2 linked regions of the Homo sapiens genome follow. The protein of the gene in region 2 binds, or shares a complex with, the protein of the main gene of each other region. Each region holds a gene or a part of one and is shown on either strand. Other genes may lie near its edges. The genes, in order: GNAI1 and NPFFR1. A codon is read from its position in the direction of its gene.

Region 1 (3,629 bases), on a different chromosome or scaffold from region 2:
GACTGCAGATGAAACTGGTGAAGTGGCAACATACAGGAAAAAGAAGAGGAGGAGAAGGGTAACACAGGAGCAGACAGACAGGAGATAAATCAAGTGAGTTGTTTAGGGGCTACACAGGGTTCTTCCACAGCCACAGGAAATTGAGAGTTGCGGCTGAAGCAAGAAGCAACTGAATCAATACTTTGGGCATGCCATGGAGATCTTAAACAATAATCTTAACTCTGGGGATGTGAAAGAATTATGTAATATTCTTTTTGTGCAAAGATTCTGAAGTCAGGTATTCTTATTAACTTAAGCAAAACACAAGCAAAAATTCCTAAACACACTGTCTACTTGGCAAGGAAAGAGCTAACAAGTATATTCTTAGTTGCTCTAAAATCCCCGTAGGTATACAATATTTATGGATTCACTTGGGGAATCTGGTACTATGAATTAGTACAAAATGGCTACATCATAGAATATGATAAAAATAAACTGAAAAATATATTCAAATAAGGGAAAAATTAAGCCATCTTGACTCTGGGTAGCTTATTTCTAATAAGCACAAAAAAATGTTGCTGAATACAGTGATTTAGGACTTTGACTTTCAAAAAGAAAGCAAAGTTTTAAAGTAAGTAAATGTGTGAAATTAGTTTGAACTGAAGTGTAATTTCACCGTACACAAAAAGAGCTATAAGTAACATGATTATATTTACCAAAGAACCCTCCCCTTTTGGTTCCACTGAATGTTTAATTAAATGTAGCCTAGTCGTTCATGGTCTAGGAGCAGGAGGACAATGGACTTGGGTCTGGAACTGGACTCTGGCTTCAGGAAGCCCCGGTATTCTCATTTGTATGGGTAGGGATACCTGAGCACTGACATCACAGGGTTGTCTTAACATTTCCTGTAAAATGGCAGTGAATACTCATCGTACAATTTACTCAACACAAGACTGAGGAAAATTCTGTTTATAAAAAAACAAATTCTTGAGACTTTTAAAAAAAAAAACAGGAAGAGTGGGGTGAGGGTAAATAACTAAACTCTTCAAACTATCTAGATTTGGAGATTACATAAACCAGTGGTAATCAAACTCCCTGTTTTTTTAAGGCATACTGAATGCTCTTCACTAAAGTAAAACTTTACTCAATACATAAACCAGATGAAAGCTGAGTTACTCTGCTTTAATGAAAAAGTTATAAGGTGGTGGGTGCAGGGGGCAGTAATTAGCTCTGTTCCCTCTCCCATTTCCGCCTTCAACAGCAACCCAGGAGGTGCTCCAAGGAACTAAATTAAACTAAAACTAATGTTTTAGCCCAACTCCTGACTTCACAGATGGAATACTGAGACCTAGGTGAACTAACTGCCTTGTTCAAGATCAAAGAGCTAATTATGGAAAAGTCAGGACTGTACTTCAGGTCTACTTTCCTCACTCCAGGGAATTTTCCATCATAGTAAAATTAAAGCACTATTAACAGTCTCATTACCAAAGTTTTGGCTTCTTGTGAAACCTTCCCTGCCCTTCTGGAAGAGTTAGCTGCCTCAATGATCCTGTCTTCATTTCCCCTTACTATAATGTTCATGTTCCTTATTTTAGCAGTAGGTTGCACTGCTATTGCCTGTTGTTTAAGTATGTCTGTCTTTCAGATTAGATGGTGGGCAGAGACATGTCTTATTTATTGTACATCACACAGTACCTGATATGAAATCTGTTAACTGGATTTAAAAAATAGTATTTTAACTTGGAGTCATCACTAAAAATTATCTAACTGCTTTTCCATAAAATGAATACATTATTTTCAGTAATTTCATCTACATCTTAAGGAAATTTTTATGCTCAACTGCAGTTTGATAAATAATACCCCTTAAAGGTCTAAGAATCACTAAGCCAAGAGATTTAAATTAACAACTGAATTCTTGCCTTAGGGGAAGTTTCACTTAGAAATATGTAACTTGACAAGTTATTCCCAGAAAAGGAAAATACCTGCATATTCTGGATAGCATATAGTGAGAGGGCTCTTTTTGATTTTTTCTTCAAAGAGATCCTTCTTGTTTAGAAAAAGTATAATGGATGTATCTGTAAACCACTTGTTGTTACATATGCTGTCAAACAATTTCATGCTTTCATGCATTCGGTTCTGTAATAGAAAAAAATAAAACCAATCGTCACTAACAGCAAGGATTTTTGAGGACTATTTTAAAAAATAAAAGGTGTTGTAATAAAACAGAGTTTAGTGATTGAAAAATACGTATCACAAAAATACATTTCTGCCATTTCAGAACACACTTTCACTTTAGGTAAGAGAAGTGTCTAATCATCTTTCACCACTTTTTGCATTCAACTTTTACTTGCCAAGTGCCCACTATATGTCATGCTCTGTGCCAGGGAATATCCTGCTACAGGACATTATAATCTAGGGATGTGAAGTGTGAACATGTGAAAAGAAATGACATTGTCATAGAGTTCATTTCATCTAAATTTCCATTAGAAGATAAATAGAGGTTTTTAAAGATTAATAACTTAAATTGAACAAGCTAAGACCCAATTAGCCCAATACTCTAAATATTATAATAAATATAAATACTGGAAGGACACTTCCAATTCCTGTTTCTTGACCTTCCAGGATCTGTGCTCATCAAAGAGGGCACTGATACATTTTATAGTGCTGAAATGAAAGAAATGAACATGTGGTGTTGCACTGCACCTACTACACTATAATTTCATATACTTGATTTTAAAAATACAATCGTCTCTCGGTATACTCAGGGGGATTAGTACAAAGACCTCCAAGGGTACCAAAATGTGCATACACTCAAGTCCAGCAGGCAGTTCTGTGGAACCCACACATAGGAAAAAGTGGCTTTCTGTATACTCAGGTTTTGCATCCCATGAATGTGCTTGGTTGAAAAAAATTTTCATATATGTGGACCCATGCAGCTTAAACCCGTTGTTCAAGGGTCAACTGAACAAAACCGACATTTCTACTTTTTCCCCCACTTTGTAATAAAGTTAACTTAAAATGACAAAGTTTTACATTTCTATTTAAAAACATTTCCCCCATATTAATGGTACACTGAAACCTATCTGAAAATTACAGGGCAGCAACAAAGCATAACATATATTAAAGATTTACCGGCTGGGTGCGGTGGCTCAGGCCTGTAATCCCAGCACTTTGGGAGGCCGAGATGGGTGGCTCATCTGAGGTCAGGAGTTTCTGACCAACCTGGCCAACATGGTGAAACCCCATTTCTACTAAAAATACAAAAATCAGCTGGGTGTGGTGGCACGTGCCTGTAATCCCAGCTACTTGGGAGGCTGAGGCAGGAGAACTGGCTTGAACCTGGGAGGTGGAGGTTGCAGTGAGCAGAGATGGTGCCACTGCACTCCAGTCTGGCAACAGGGCGAGACTCCGTCTCAAAAAAAAAAAAAAAAAGATTTACTAAACTAACAGAAGTAACAAATTAAGAAAAGGGAATCTTGGACTACTATGTAACTATATTTCCATGTGCTATGTTGATATTAGATACAGAAATGCATAGTTAAGCTTACAGGCTTGAGGTGAGATTGACTCTCCATGTTTTCCTTTTCCTCAAGATCCACCTGTGCTTCTCTAGTATATCTCTCTTTTATCAAATAGAAAAGTTAGAGGAA
Region 2 (4,014 bases):
TTCATTCTCCCTTTCTCTACTGCCTTCTTGCCTTTCTCAACTAAAGTTCCATGGAGGAGATGAAGGGGAACGACATCAAAGAGTTTGAGGGTATAATAATTGGGTCCCAGCAGAAAACAAATGGTGCACTCAGAAAGGGTTTAACTGAACAGAGTTTAATGGAAGAAGAGAGGGTTAAGAGAACCAGCCAGAAACGGTGAAGCACCCAGGGACTCACAACCACAGGAAGCTGTTACCATTGAGTGCAAGGAGAGGGAAGAGTGTTACTGTAGTCAGGTGAGGGCTAGAGCCATGAAAGGGGACTCACCCAATAGGAGCAGGCTGTGGCTATAGGGAAAAACAGCTGCTGAAAGAATTGGGCCAGGCAGGAAGGGAATCAGAAGACAAACACCCTGACCTCTCTCTCTGCTCCTGCCCTCCCATCTCCTTCAGGGCCTGGCATTGGCTGAACCCAGCTAGAAGCCAGAAGACAAGGGAACCAGGGCAATGCAGAACTTAGAGGTTAGCCTCTGGGGCACACAGGAGGGCCAAGAAAGTTGGAACCTAAATGGGATGGGGGAGTTAATAAAGAAAAACCAACATTGGAGAATGAGTTATGGGCAAGACAGGGCATGAAGTACAAGACCAGGGTTTGAGTGGTTGTAGGCTGAAAGTCTTGGATCAGTGCATCAAGTTGCAACTGGAGCTGGGGACATGCTTGGGGGACCAGGGCATGGTTAAGGTTTGGCACACAGAGGGTCTCATTAGTGGTGAGAAATCGGTAATCTCTTCTTTGCCTAAGGTCCTGACCAATATATTCCTTTGGTCCTAGGGGAGCCCTCCCAGCCTCCCAACAGCAGTTGGCCCCTAAGTCAGAATGGGACTAACACTGAGGCCACCCCGGCTACAAACCTCACCTTCTCCTCCTACTATCAGCACACCTCCCCTGTGGCGGCCATGTTCATTGTGGCCTATGCGCTCATCTTCCTGCTCTGCATGGTGGGCAACACCCTGGTCTGTTTCATCGTGCTCAAGAACCGGCACATGCATACTGTCACCAACATGTTCATCCTCAACCTGGCTGTCAGTGACCTGCTGGTGGGCATCTTCTGCATGCCCACCACCCTTGTGGACAACCTCATCACTGGTGAGTGCGGGCAGTTGGCAGCAGGAGTGTCCCCTACCCCCCACTTCAACTTCTCAGATAAGGCTGGAAATCAAAGCTTAGAAGACAGATATCATTGCTGGGCTGGCCTCTTGGCCATGCCGTGGTCTCGAACTCTCAAGACAGTCTTGGGGCTGAAGAGTTAGACTAGAAATAAGAGATTTAATGAATTTCCTGTTTTCTTTGTGCCTGGCATGATGTTACTTCTCATGCATTATCTTAATTCATCCTCACAACAATCCAGTGAAGTAGAGTTTATGGTCCTCCCCATTTTATGGAAGAGGAAACATGCTCGGAGTGGTTAAGAAACTGGTCTGTAGTTACACAGCTAATAGGTGTCAAGGTCAACATTCTCACACCCATACTTCTAATTATTGTATTATACCATTCAGTCCCACTCTCTCACGGAGCTCGCATGGGCAGAATTAGAGCCAGTGGGGAGAAGTGGAAGGGAGGCAGGTTTCCTCTGAATCGGGAACGAAAACTCCACTCATTTGAGCTGGAAATTGAGCAGGGCACAGAAGAGAGTCCTGCCTGTAAGTAATGAGCTCTCTGTCCCTTGGAGTGTCTAAGCAGGGACTGGCCGGCCACTCAGTGGACCACTTGACCTCTAAATTCCTGCCGGTGCATCCTGCAGATGTCAGAACAGTGCCATCTACTCTCTACTCTCTCATGCGACTGGCCTTTCTTGTTTTAGAATCAAGTTTCCACCAACCTGAGACTCCAGGTGAGGGACTGGTTTTCAGAGATATGGAGACCCCTAGAGGTCTGAGCCTGCAGATTCTGAGCTCAGAGCTCCCAGCAGCTCACTGGTCCTCAGGATCCAGAGCCTGGACAGCCCTATTCAGAGTGACTTCACTGACTCGGGGCAGAGGGAGCCACAGCCCACGTTTCTGTAGGTTCTAGGACCCAGGATGTGGAGCCAGTGCAGAGTCAGCTCCCCTCCACAGTACCAGCTCTGTCTGGTGGAACCGTTACCCACTGCTGAGTCCCAGCTTCCTTTGCCAATGCTGAACATAAACTGCATTCCTCTCCTTTCCAACACATAGACACACACACGTGTACTCAGGCACACATGTGCAGAGATGCACACATGCATACACATAAATACATGCATACCAGTCAACAGTGATATAATGAGGTCACTAGCTGGTTAAGGTGGCGTCTCCCCATCTTTTTCATACACTCATATTTAAAATATTGTTTGAATACATAAAACATTCAGATGATTCAATAGTCAAAAACTACCAAAATTCTCCAGTGAAAAATCTCCCTTCCGCCCCTGTCCTCTGGCCTCCCAGCTCTTCTCCCTCCTGGGAGGCAACCAGTGTTGCCAGTTTCTTGTGTCTCTTTCAAACACTATTTTATGCGAGTGCAAGCAAATTGAGGACATGCTAAGGTTCCAAACAGCCAGTCCCGTACTTTTACTTCCCACCACACCCCACTTAAAAATATACCATGTATGCTGTAAAAAAGATTCATTAAAATAAACTTACATGTTGTTATCCCATATTAATAAATAAAAGAGTTTCTCACTATTTTCACCAACTGCTTAGAATTCCATTGTATGGATGTACTACAATTTATTTTGATTTGTATTTATGTTGTTTCTAATAGAATCTTCTGCAATTAAATAAAACTTCACACAGCTTCACTATTTTTTCTTTCTTTTTTTTTTTTTTTTTTTTTTTTGGAGTCTCACTGTCACCCGGGCTGGAATGCAGTGCTGGGATCTCGGCTCACTGCAACCTCCGCCTCCCAGGTTGAAGTGATTCTCCTGCCTCAGCCTCCCGAGTGGCTAGGATTACAGGCTTCTGCCACCACACCCAGCTAATTTTTGTATTTTTAGTAGAGATGGGGTTTCACCATGTTAGCCAGTCTGGTTTTGAACTCTTGATCTCAAGTGACCTGCCTGCCTCGGCCTCCCAAAGTGCTGGGATTACAGGCATGAACCACCACACCGGCCTCTTTTTTTTGAGACAGTCTCACTCTGTCATCCAGGCTGGAGCGCAGTGCACGATCATGGCTTACTGCAGTCTCAACCTGCCTGGGCCCAGGTCCTGGGACTACAGGCATGTGCCACCACCAATGGCTAATTTTTCTATTTTTTGTAGAGATGGAGTTTTGTCATGTTACCCAGGCTTGTCTCAAACTCCTGGGTTCAAGCCATCTGCCCGCCTCAGCCTCCCAAAGTGCTGGGATTACAGGAGTGAGGCACCATGCCCAGCTTTTTCTTCCTTTCTTTCTTTTTGTTTTGTTTTGTGTTGGTTTTGTTTTTTTTTTAACTCACATACAGAAGGTTGAATCATTCATTCAGTTTACAGTTCATGGCACTATGTGATTTCACTCTGTTGCAAAGCTCTTCTTTTGTTTATTTGTTTCCTTCTATATACCTATTCCACTCTACATCTCTTCTCTGACCCATAGGCAGCCATTCTGTTATATTTCTGTCTTTTGTATGCATTCTCAGAAAATGTGCTGTGAATGGCCGGGCGCGGTGGCTCATGCCTGTAATCCCAGCACTTTGGGAGGCCAAGGCGGGTGGATGACAAGGTCAGGAGATCGAGACCATCCTGGCTAAAATGGTGAAACCCCATCTCTACTAAAAAATACAAAAAATTAGCCGGGCGTGGTCGTGGGTGCCTGTAGTCCCAGCTACTCGGGAGGGTGAGGCAGGAGAATGGCGTGAACCCAGGAGGCAGAGCTTGCAATGAGCGAGATCACGCCACTGCACTCCAGCCTGGGTGAAAAAAGAAAATATGCTGTGAATGTGTGCATGTTTTACATTTAAATATTTTTGTTAATATATAATTTAACATACATTAAAATCTGCCTTTTTAAGTGTATAGTTCCACAGGGGCTTTTTTGTT

What was found.
Region 1: the proteins of NPFFR1 (region 2) and GNAI1 are in contact, whole or in part, in a cryo-EM structure (PDB 9M0R), measured with the Homo sapiens proteins. Residues at the interface, in NP_071429.1 of Homo sapiens: Thr78 (codon at 1,036), Arg141, Cys144, Ile145, Pro148, Phe149, Leu243, Arg264, Arg265, Val268, Met271, Leu272, Phe332, Asn333, Glu334, Asn335; in NP_002060.4 of Homo sapiens: Ala31, Arg32, Asp341, Ile344, Asn347, Leu348, Lys349, Asp350, Cys351, Gly352, Leu353, Phe354.

What each region holds. Positions count from the first base shown.
Region 1 is NC_000007.14:80,211,202-80,214,830, reverse strand, and holds part of GNAI1 (guanine nucleotide-binding protein G(i) subunit alpha-1), read right to left. Parts: intron 2,116-3,629; coding exon 1,962-2,115; intron 1-1,961. UniProt on the Homo sapiens protein: Guanine nucleotide-binding proteins (G proteins) function as transducers downstream of G protein-coupled receptors (GPCRs) in numerous signaling cascades.
Region 2 is NC_000010.11:70,263,189-70,267,202, reverse strand, and holds part of NPFFR1 (neuropeptide FF receptor 1), read left to right. Parts: intron 1-811; coding exon 812-1,126; intron 1,127-4,014. UniProt on the Homo sapiens protein: Receptor for NPAF (A-18-F-amide) and NPFF (F-8-F-amide) neuropeptides, also known as morphine-modulating peptides. Can also be activated by a variety of naturally occurring or synthetic FMRF-amide like ligands.